Linked DNA regions of Homo sapiens: region 1 is linked to region 2. Evidence: fine-mapped expression QTL. A gene starts in region 2. The other region holds a variant in brackets. All regions are shown on one strand. Distances are from middle to middle. Region 1 overlaps ANKS1B (ankyrin repeat and sterile alpha motif domain containing 1B). Region 2 holds the start of ANKS1B (ankyrin repeat and sterile alpha motif domain containing 1B).

Region 1 (5,388 bases), 570 kb after region 2:
TATCTGTGCCACATTTTCTTTATCCAGTCTATTATTGATGGACATTTGGGTTGGTTCCAAGTCTTTGCTATTGTGAATAGTGCTGCAATAAACATACATGTGCATGTGTCTTTATACTCTTACTAGTGATGTCTAAGAAGGGAAAGAGTTCAATTTTACTGGGGCCAGCAAAATGTCAGGCTCACTTAAGGCCTAGAGAAATGGTTTTCAAATTATTTAGCCAGAGAACTCTGTTAAAAGAAAAGTTTATGTAGGCTGAGTTATATGAAATTGCTATTTTTGCAGGTAATACGGTTGAATATCAGCAGTTTCATATGTTTCAACCTAACAGAAACCTAATAGGTAAAAGCAAAAAAAAAAAGTATAACTGCTCTGATTGATGGTGGAGTAGGGGTGTTCAGAGGACCTCAGAGAAGGGCTCAAGAGCAACTGTCTGCTCTCAGAAAGCCCTGGGCTTGAGAGCAACTGTCTGTTCTCAAAAAGCCCTGGGCAGGAAAGGCAGGTGCAGGAACCTGGAACTCTCAGGGCCTCGGTCAGGGTGTGTGTGTGGGCGAGGGTGGTGCACCGGGTGAGGGCCCTTGTTATGGAGCTGGCAGAGAGGAAGAGAACATCAACAGCTAGCAGGAGAAGAGCTGCTTTGGACAGTTGCCTGTATCAGTAAATCTGACCTTGCTCCTATGTGGGATTGCAGTGTCTGAGAAGCAGTACAGAGTCCCTACAGTCTGTTTTATAATTTGTCTTTTTAAATAGAAGATGAGTATGCATATTATTTCATAGTCAGATACCTCTATATAAAAATGAAATGAAGAGCTAAAGTCAGGAGATATAAAGATTTTTAAAAATTTTCTGCCTTTCTCTTATAAAAAATGTAGTGACTGTAAGAGTTTAATGCATAGCAGAATTAGATACTATTTATTCCCATTTTCCACCCACTTGCGTTTTATTTCAACAGCTTTTGAAACAATGTAGATTTTTAAAAAAATCAATGCTACCAATAGACTGAAGAGTAGGAAAATTGTGCGTTGATATAAAGATGAGAAACTCAAGAGTTATTAGGCTCTTGGCTTTACTTGTAAATATGTTTGCTTCTCTTTGCTTTACCTATAGTGTGGTGTCTTTCGGGGAAAATGCAATCAATTTGAAATTCACTAGATTTGTGTTTTAATTTCATCTCTCCCGCTTAATTTTAATTTCATCTCTCCCACTTAACTTTAATTTCAGCTCTCCCACTTAACTGAGATTATCTGTGAATCTCAAGTCTATAAAATGGAAAGAGTAATAGCTACTTTTGATACTAACATTATAGGCTTCAATGAGACAACAAATTTCAAGTGCCTAGAAGAATGTCCACGTCTCTTAAATACTCAATACTCACTCACGACTTCTTTAACTCCCTTGTGGTGATCATATATTTTTTGTCTATGTTTGGCCATAATCTATAAAGCAGAAGAATTGCATTTGCCTACCTGAAGATAAGGAGTTCTACATCTTTAGAGCAAGTCTTGATCACATTAACATCATATTCATAACAACCAAAAAATTGTACTTCACTTAAAATTGTTTTCCATTTATTGAAAAATCAAGAAAATATAATAATTTTCCATTTGCATGACATCTGTGATGAAATGGCAATGATACTTACTTTCTTCGAGTTGTCCAGACTTCCTCAAATCTCTTATATACAGTCTTCAAAGTGATCAAGACAGAGAAATATGAGAATTCTAACTGATAAAGCTGAGTGGATCGCAAGTGTTTACATTTTCCTCCTCCTTACTTGCAATCAAAATGGTAAAAATAAATACAAAATTAACAATAAATTCATAGCAGTGATGAAAAACAGGGAGAGTTACTACCTGAGGCATTTGCGAAATTCTAAAAGATAAAATCAAATATTGCTAGATTTAGACAAAACAAGAGGAAAAAGCCCACCATCCAACACTGGTGGAAGAGGGGAAGATGTCACTGGAACAATGAGTGGATTTGACATCCTCATTAGACCTCTGCGAAGAATCTCAAGCCTGAGCAACAGGGCATGGTTATCAAAGCCAGGGAGTGGACAGGGCAACCAGAACCTTAGCATCTCCTATGTGGAGCAATCAGCTTTGTTGTTTGCCCACCAGATGGTAATAAGTATCTAAGGAAGGTGAAGGACCCCCTGAAGCTCCTAATGTGGGGACAGTGCCCTAGGTATAAAAAGTGCTTGACCAAGACACCAGATGGTTGAGGAAAAATTAACAACCAAAAAGAGAGAAACCAGGCTTAATGAACAAAGTAAGGAACCTTTAAGAAAACTGACTTAATGCCAGAAAAAGACTCTAATCAGTATCCTCAGAAAGATTTGAGAGGTGATTGAACTTATAAAGTTAATAACAGGCTATTTTAAAAATGGAATACTTGAAAAAAAAGAAAAGTTTTTAAAATTAAAAATAGCATAATCACACCAAAAGTTAAAACAAAATGCCTAAAATTATGTGCCTTATCTTATTTGTTCATTGATGTATCCCCAGAGGCTACAACAGCGCCTGACCACACAGCTGATAATGGTCAATAAGTATTTCCTAGCAAATTAATGAAGGTTCTTTAGGACAATGAACTGTAGAATACTCCCAGTATATAAAACAGGAAGGGTCAAAGAGATCCAATATCCACGCACTAGGAGCTCTAGAAATAGAAGCCATACAGTAAGTAAGAGAGTGTGATGTTAGTACAGGAATAGACAAATAGATCAATGGGAATATAGTCGAGTCCAAAAATGCAAGCCCAATCTCTATTTGGAAATTTAGTATATGATAAAGGTGACATTTCAAATCAGTGGATAAATAATGGTATTGGGACAGTAGGCTATCATTTTGAGAAAAAAATATTTAGAATTAAATATTTTC[G/A]TCATATGTATCACACAAAATATCCCAGGTTGATATAGACCCAAAGGAAAATAAATATTTCTACCAAAAAACACCTGCACTCATATGTTTATTGCGGTGCTATTCACTATAGAGAAGACATGGAATCAGCCTAAGTGCCCATCAGTAGTGGATTGGATAAAGAAAATGTGGTACATATACACTGTGGAATACTATGCAGCCATAAAGAAGAATGAAATCATGTCCTTGGCAGCAGCATGAATGTAGCTAGAGACCGTTATCCTGAGTGAATTAACACAGAAACAGAAAACCAAATACCACACATTCTTACTAATAAGTGGGACCTAAACATTGGGTACACACAGACATAAAGATGGGAACAGTAGACACTGGGGACTCTAGCAGCTCCCCCAACCCTGGTGCTCCTGGCCCAGGGTTTTGTAAGGCGGTTTATGGGAAAATTGAACATGTGTTGGGGCTTGGAATCTTGACTTAACTGTTTTCCCACTTTCCACCCTATTTCTACTTTCTTTACTGAGTAAAATTCTTTTCCACCTGCTCCTCCAACCCAGGTGCCCCTGGCCTGCCCAGAAACTGCTGATGCAGTAGTGAGACCATGAGTGTGGGGAAGGGTCAAGGTCAGATGCACTTACTGAGTTGCAGGGCAGAGCCACTGCATTCCTGTAAGAATCTGCCCTCACCCTGTGAGTGTTTCCATGACCAAGGGAGCAATACGTTAAGTAGCAAATAAAAGAACACCATAACAGATCTAGAGAGAGAACATGGGAAAAAGAAAAAAGTTTTTGTACCTGCTCTTGAAACAAGGGGTCCTACCTTTTTATGTTGCACTGGTTCCCTGATTCAATCACAGTCGTTCCTGTGTCTGTTCAACTTTACCTCCTCAGAGAAATTTCCTGTTAACTTTTGTTTGTTGGTTTGTTTGTTTGTTTGAGATGGAGTCTTGCCCTGTTGCCCAGGCTGGAGTGCAGTGGCCCGATCTCGGCTCCCTGCAAGCTCCCCCTCCCAGGTTCACGCCATTCTCCTGCCTCAGCCTCCCGAGTAGCTGGGACTACAGGAGCCTGCAACCACACCCGGCTAATTTTTTGTATTTTTAGTAGAGACGGGGTTTCACCGTGTTAGCCGGGATGGTCTCGATCTCCTGACCTCGTGATCCGCCCACCTCGGCCTCCCAAAGTGCTGGGATTACAGGCGTGAACCACTGTGCCCAGCTGAAATTTCCTATTCACTTTATAGAAAGGGTCACAATTTTTTTTTTTTATAAAAGATCAGAGAGTAAAATAGTTAAGTCTTCGTTCATAAGGTCTACGTTACAACTACTACACTCTGCTACTGTAGCAGGAAAACAGCCATAGACAATACATCAATGAATGGACATGGCTATGTCTCCATAAAACTTTGTTTTCAAACAGTGAAGTTTGAGTTTCATACAATTTTCATGTGTTACTAATATTATTTTTCCTTTTCTAAAAAACGATAAAAAATGTGAAAACCATTCTTAGCTTTCAGGCTGAACAAAAATATTCAGAAGCCTGGCTTTGGCACATAAGATGTAGTTTGCTGACTCCTGCTAAGTAAATATGTATAGAAGCAAGTCCTCTGGAAAGTAGGGTGATATGAGGACTGGACCACAGTGGAGGGATATGTTTTAAAGTGGAGAAGCCACAACGAACACAAGTGCAATTCATTCTACATATCAAAGCTTGGCAAATTCAATATGTAATTTCAGTGAATTTGTGAAAACACTTTTTCTTTTTTATACTGAATGGCTGAGTGCAATTCTATTTGAGTAGTAAAAATTATATTAAATCAAACATGTTTAAATGAATATTCTAGACCTATTCTTTTTTATCTCCATTTTAATATTATGACCATCTCTTTATTCTTTTCTCCCATTGCTGTTATTCCATTTCTCCACATAGATATCTCTTTTTTATTTTAATTTTTAGTTTTTTGGGGTACATAGTAGGTATATATATTTGTAGAGTATATGAGATATTTTGACACAGGCATGCAGTGTAATAATCATTTTGGGGTAAATGGGGTGTTCATCAACTCAAGCATTTTTCCTTTCTTTGTATTACCCATAATTCAGTTATACGGTTTTAGTTATTTTAAAAGGTACAATAAATTATTGCTGACTCTAGTCATAATATTGTGCTATCAAATACTAGATCTTATTCATTCCAACCACATTTTTGAGCCCATTAACTATTCCCACTCCCCCCACCACCCAAATTACCATTTTTAGCATCTGGTAACCATCACTCCACTCTCTACCACTGTGAGTTCAATTGTTTTAATTTTTCTAGTTCCTACAAATAAATGAGAACATGCAATGTTTGTCTTTCTGTGCCTGGCTTATTTCACTTAACGTAATGACTTCCAGTTCCATCCATGTTGTTGCAAATGACAGGATCTCATTCTTTTTTATAGCCGAATAGTATGCCATTGTGTTTATGTACCACATTTTCTTTATCCATTCATATGTTGATAGACACTTAGGTGG
Region 2 (5,388 bases):
GTCTAATTGGTTCCCAAGATTCTATCACTCTTTTCACTATTCACAGATGCAAAACATCTTGATGAAATCTGGATGTTTAAAAGATCTGGATATTTATTTTGGCCTCTGTAGATTTTTAAAAGAATGTTTTCACTTTTATTTTGCATGTTAGTCCCCATGTAGCCAAAGCCTTTATCCTCTTCAACAAAAAACTATGAGGTGCAGTCACTGCAATGTCTACAGAAAAACAAAGTTATGAGGTCACTAAAACCAAAGAGTTTGAAGCTGAAAAATTGGCTTTGATTATCATATGTCAGTAGAATGCCCGAACTGTGGAACTGATTCTTAGAGTAAATCATTACTAATGGTTTTCCCATTGGGGGTGGGGGCTGCATGATTTCGATAAGATGACTCGGGGCCTGCGGTCACCAACTCATCCATGATTAAATGTTGCTTGTGAAAACTGTGGGTGATTTTCAGTTCTGACCAATTGAATACTTACAGTATATTCTGGGAAAGGTGTGTTTTGCTTAGGTGGCAACATTAGGAAAAAGGAAGAAGGATTTCCCTATGCCATTTTCAAAATGAATGTGATGGCTCCTTATCTCGTTTCTTTCATTGGTCTGCTAGTCCCATTATGTCAGGGATTATATTATTATAACATAGATTATCTTATTAAAACAGATTCTAACACAGAAAACAAAATCAAAATGAATTAAAAAACTACACTAGCCAAAATCTACATACTTCAGGAAACCTCCAATAAATAGCCATAATTTACCTAATATTTTGAATCATTGAAATGAAATCTCAGAACACAATGAATTCCATAAAAATGTTTTAATATACTCTTGTTATTTATCTCTAAATGCCTTTTAAGTTTCCCCCAGTTATTTATTGAAAATCTTTGCCTACAGCAGACAGTGCCGGATTTGAGCCTTGGCTCAGTTACTTTCTATCCCTATTATCTTGCGGGTAATCAGTTTCTTCATCTCCAAAATAGAGATGAAAATGGTCCTATCTCATGCGATTGTTGCAAGGCTTAATGAGAACATGGAAAGCACTTAGCATAGTGTCTGGTATGTAGCAACTACTCATCAAATGCATGCAATAATTATTGTCTGTCCATTTCGCTTTTCCATGGGGGGCAGGAACGTATATTGGGAAGCACATGGTGTCTGGAGTGAGTCTGTTCTGGGGTCTAGTTCTGAGTCAGCCACTTACTCCATGTGGCATCTTGAGAAATTTAATTAACCATTTGAGCCCTATTTCCTCATTTCTAAAATGGATATAATAATATCCAGTTCACTGGGTTGTTGTAAGCACAGTGCCTATTAAGTCCTCTTCTTACCAATCAATTATCAACAAGTGAACATTTATGAAGTCTATTCCAAGGACAATGCAAAGCACAAGGTGTAACAGGAAGTTTTAATAGAAAATAAACGCGCGTTCTCCACCACGGCCAAGGAGAGCATCTAACAAGTCATGCCAACCATGCACAATGAATTGCTGATGATATATGCAAATTAAAGTGGATCTCTAATCCATGCCCATTTATATTTTTCGAGTGTAGATGTGGATAAATTTTCAATGAGAGCCTTTTTCCTGGTATTCTTACAAGTCAGCAGATCTCCAAAGCCCAACTAAAATATGGGCTGATTAAAGACTCCAGAAAAACTGAAACAGTCGCAAACTGCTCGGTGGCCAGTGCCACAGAAACTAGGACGAAACGAGCCTCTTCTTTCTAACCAAGGGCAGATCTCAGGCTCTCTTGGGGAGGTAAAGCGGAAGGGTGAAATGCCGGTCAAGTTGCCTAGACTCTGATGGAAGCGGTGGCCAAAGGGCCCCTCCCCAGTGTCACCAGCCTCCCCATTCCTGTCACGGAGGATTTTCCTCAGGCGTCGTGACAGACCCGAGGCGTGTTGCCGGGGCCCGCCGGGCCGAGGAGGAGCCGACGCGGCCCGGGGAACTCCAGTCCTCACACGGTTAACGCTCTTCCAAGGAGAGTGGAGGAGGGAGGGTCCCCGCCCACGAGAACGAAGAGAATCTCAGGGCCGAAGCCCCGCCTCAGCCGGCCCGGCCCCTCCCCGCCAGCCCGCCACCCAACTCGGGCCGCACCAGGGGCCGCACCTGCCCGCGCGCACACGCCCCCCGCGCGCCAGGCCTCGCCGCCGCCGCCGCCCTCGGCACGCGCCCGCTGCGGCTGCCCCCCACCGCCCTGCCTCGGCGCGGGCCACAGCGCACGAGCCGCCGCCGCCGCCGCCGCGCTCCTCCCCGCCGCGGACGCCGCCCCCGCGTAACCGCCGAGGAAGCCGAGGCGAGCCCGGGTCGGGCGCGAGGGCGCGCGGGCCGCTGCTGCCACCGCGGGTGTTCCCTGCGCTCCCGCTCCAGCTAGGACTCTCTCTGCCGCCTCCTCCTCCTCCTCCGACCTCAGTCCTCACCACCCTCCTCCCGCTCCTCAAAAGCACCCCCGAGTCCCCACCCCCTCACGCCGCACCCGCGGGAACGAGGCCTTGGGAATTCAGGGGAGTGGCTGTGGGGGCGCGTCGCGGCTCCCAGCTCGGCCAGCCCCTCTTTCAAGACATGGTCTGATCCCCATTGTAAAAGCTGCGCCCCGAAGAGGAGGAGAGAGTCGTGCTCCCTGCCTGGGGCTGCAGGGAGCTCTCCGTGCTGAAGCTCTTGCATTATTTTAGGGTGGGGCGAAGAGGGCCCTGGATTTTGGGGAGTGGGGGTGGGTGGGGAGGAGGACCCGAGGGGGGCAAGGACTCTGTGGGGGAGTCGGTGAGAGACTATGGGGAAGGACCAGGAGCTGCTGGAAGCTGCTCGCACTGGAAATGTGGCTCTGGTGGAGAAACTCCTGTCTGGCAGGAAAGGAGGGATCCTGGGCGGTGGATCCGGACCCCTGCCCCTGTCTAATCTGCTAAGGTAAGGACGGGCACCAGCTCCGGGGTTGGCACACCTCATTATGCATTGTGATGGATATACGTCCTCCTCCTCACGGTTATTGCACCTGGTGGCTGCCAGCGATTCATTCTTAAATTAGGTAGGAAAACAGACTGCGTGTATGGAGAGGAGGTATGAGCCTCCCAGTCAGATTGATGCCTTAGATTCTTTGAGTAATTTTAAAATAGCCTTCCATCAATGCGTCAGTAAGCTACTTTTCCTCTGAGCCCTGGTGCAGAACTTGTACATGTACTAGTGTTGCTTGAAGAAAATCGACGTTCCGCCCGCTTTCCATCAACATTTATTACATATTTGCAGCTTTGAACGCAGCCTTTTTTGTCTAGTTAAATGAAATTGGCAGAGAATCTCTTGCGTGCATGCAATTACCCTGCAAAAGCCACAGCCTTCGGTGGCTCCTACCTTCTCTTGCAGAAGGCGTTTGCTGTGCCGTGGGTTATGATCCCACAAAATGAAGTGAGTGAACCTTCTTTCTGGTGAGATGTCTTCAGCACAGGGTGTGTATAAAACTTGATGGGGCAGGTTAGGCAGCCCCAGCAATACTTTCAGTTACCTGGACATAGCTGAGTGAAACTTGGTTGTTATAGCTCAGGATGAAGGATGCCAGGTTGGTATTGGGATACTGTATATGGAGTACGGTAGAGGCCTTTTAACGTGAAGATGTCGTAGGTGAGACTGGTATTGCTTGGAGAATCTTTCTAAGATGACATTTAAAAAAAATGTCAAGGTCTTCATTCAGCAGTACCTTGGAAATAGCGGGGTTGATTTCCATACTTGAGAAACTATTAAAAGTTGTATTGATGGACAAATGAAATCAACTGGGAGGGAGGAAGCCTGGAGAGTATTCACTAGATACAATTCAAGGGAAGCTCTTTAGTTTCTAAAATCGTGGCTATCCAATTTATCCTGGGTATTTTTGGAGTCATCAATTGTCATTCATATCTTCGCCTTAAAACATCTCTTGGATAACCCAACTATAGTTGTAAAAATTTTAGAAAGCCCAAGTGATTTCCCTGGTTTTTTAAAAACTGTTCCATGCTACCCTTGACAAGTGCTTAATAGAAACTTTTGGGTGATGACATTGCGTTCTTTACACAAGTTCTCATAGGTTGTGGTGGTCAGACAGTGCAATTAATTATAGGGCTAGCTAAAAGGGAAAATGGAAAGTTTCTATTACAGTGAAATAAATTGAGTTGAAAAATAGTCGATGGGATTTTAAAAAGCCCCATATGTTATTCTATATACTCGTTGACAGTGACATTTTATTGGAATGATAGTTCATGTCAGAAGAATGAATATTTATGGGACATTTTTTCAATAGGTCATAGAGATGACTTGTGTGTACTCCCTTGTTAAATAATCTTCTCTTTCAAACACAGGTAGACAATGTGTGCATATTTCAGATTGCAGCTCTAATAATTGCCTGTAGTCACATGTAGTTTATGTGAAAGCAATTTATCTCTTTACAGTTTTAAGTTACACGTAAAATAACAACGTTTGCTGTGGATCCATCAGTTATAAAAATGATTATGTCTAAAAACTGGTATGCTGAAAGAATTTTCTCAAAATAAACAATTTCTTCGGGAAAACATGAGGAATTATTTGAGAACAGTGAGAATTTCACTTAATTTTATTGTGATAAATCGTATTTTAAAAACACTCCTTGTGACAAAACTCAAAAGCAAACATCCTTTAAATACTCCTTTCCCAGCTGTGATTTTTTTTTTTTTTTTTAAAGAATAGATGTCAAGTTTTAGGGATAAAACACCAAGTATTTAATGTTAGTGGACACTAAAGTATCAAAATAGTGACCCACAGTGTATATCTTGAGTGAGAGGTTTTCTCTTTTGCTGGTGTAGTAGTAGTAGTAGTAGCTCTACAACAAAGATTGCACATAGAAAACAAAAGTAAACAACATGTGTTTATTAGAGTACTTCGAACCAAGTTGTAAAAATCACAAACAAAACCAATAACCTTTAAACTTGCTTTTATCCATCTTATACTGAATAGTGTCTGAAGAAAATGAGAGTTGAAATTGTATTCTTTGGGCAATCATTTGCATAAAATGACATTCCTAAGAAGGCACATTTTATTTAGTTGTCACTTTATTTCAAAAATGATTGTCATCAGAAATTTATTGGCAGGATAATGGAAAATGTGTCCCCCGTCAAACATAATGACACTTTGAAATTTCTTAATGTTTTAGAAGGAACTGTAGAATATGTTTGGCACTTTTTCCCCGCTTGCTTTATTACCTGGGTTGTGTAATAATGGTGTCAGACCCTATGCTAAGTGCTTACACGTGTCATCTCATTCAATTCTTGTGTCAGCCTTAGGAGGTCCATTGTCATTTCACAGATGAAGGAATAAAAAGATAAGATTAAGGACTTGCCCATGGTCACTTAATTAATAATGGCAAAGATTTGAAAATCTGTGATTCAGATTTGT

The links. PIP is the estimated chance that this variant, and not a neighbour inherited with it, causes the effect. A credible set is the group of variants that fine-mapping cannot tell apart.
Region 1: its variant is the best candidate, but not a certain one, in a credible set for the expression of ANKS1B in cerebellum (GTEx, PIP 0.57).

What each region holds. Positions count from the first base shown.
Region 1 is chr12:99,409,092-99,414,479 of GRCh38, reverse strand. All of the region lies in intron 11 of ANKS1B (ankyrin repeat and sterile alpha motif domain containing 1B), which reads left to right. Among named protein-coding and RNA genes, the nearest start is that of GARIN6, 240 kb to the left of the region's middle. The variant G/A (reference allele first, on the strand shown) is at 2,883.
Region 2 is chr12:99,981,620-99,987,007 of GRCh38, reverse strand. ANKS1B (ankyrin repeat and sterile alpha motif domain containing 1B) reads left to right here and starts at 2,072. Exons shown (of 27, transcript NM_001352186.2): 1 at 2,072-2,904. The coding sequence starts at 2,771. RefSeq lists a silencer at 2,050-2,099 and an enhancer at 2,212-3,042.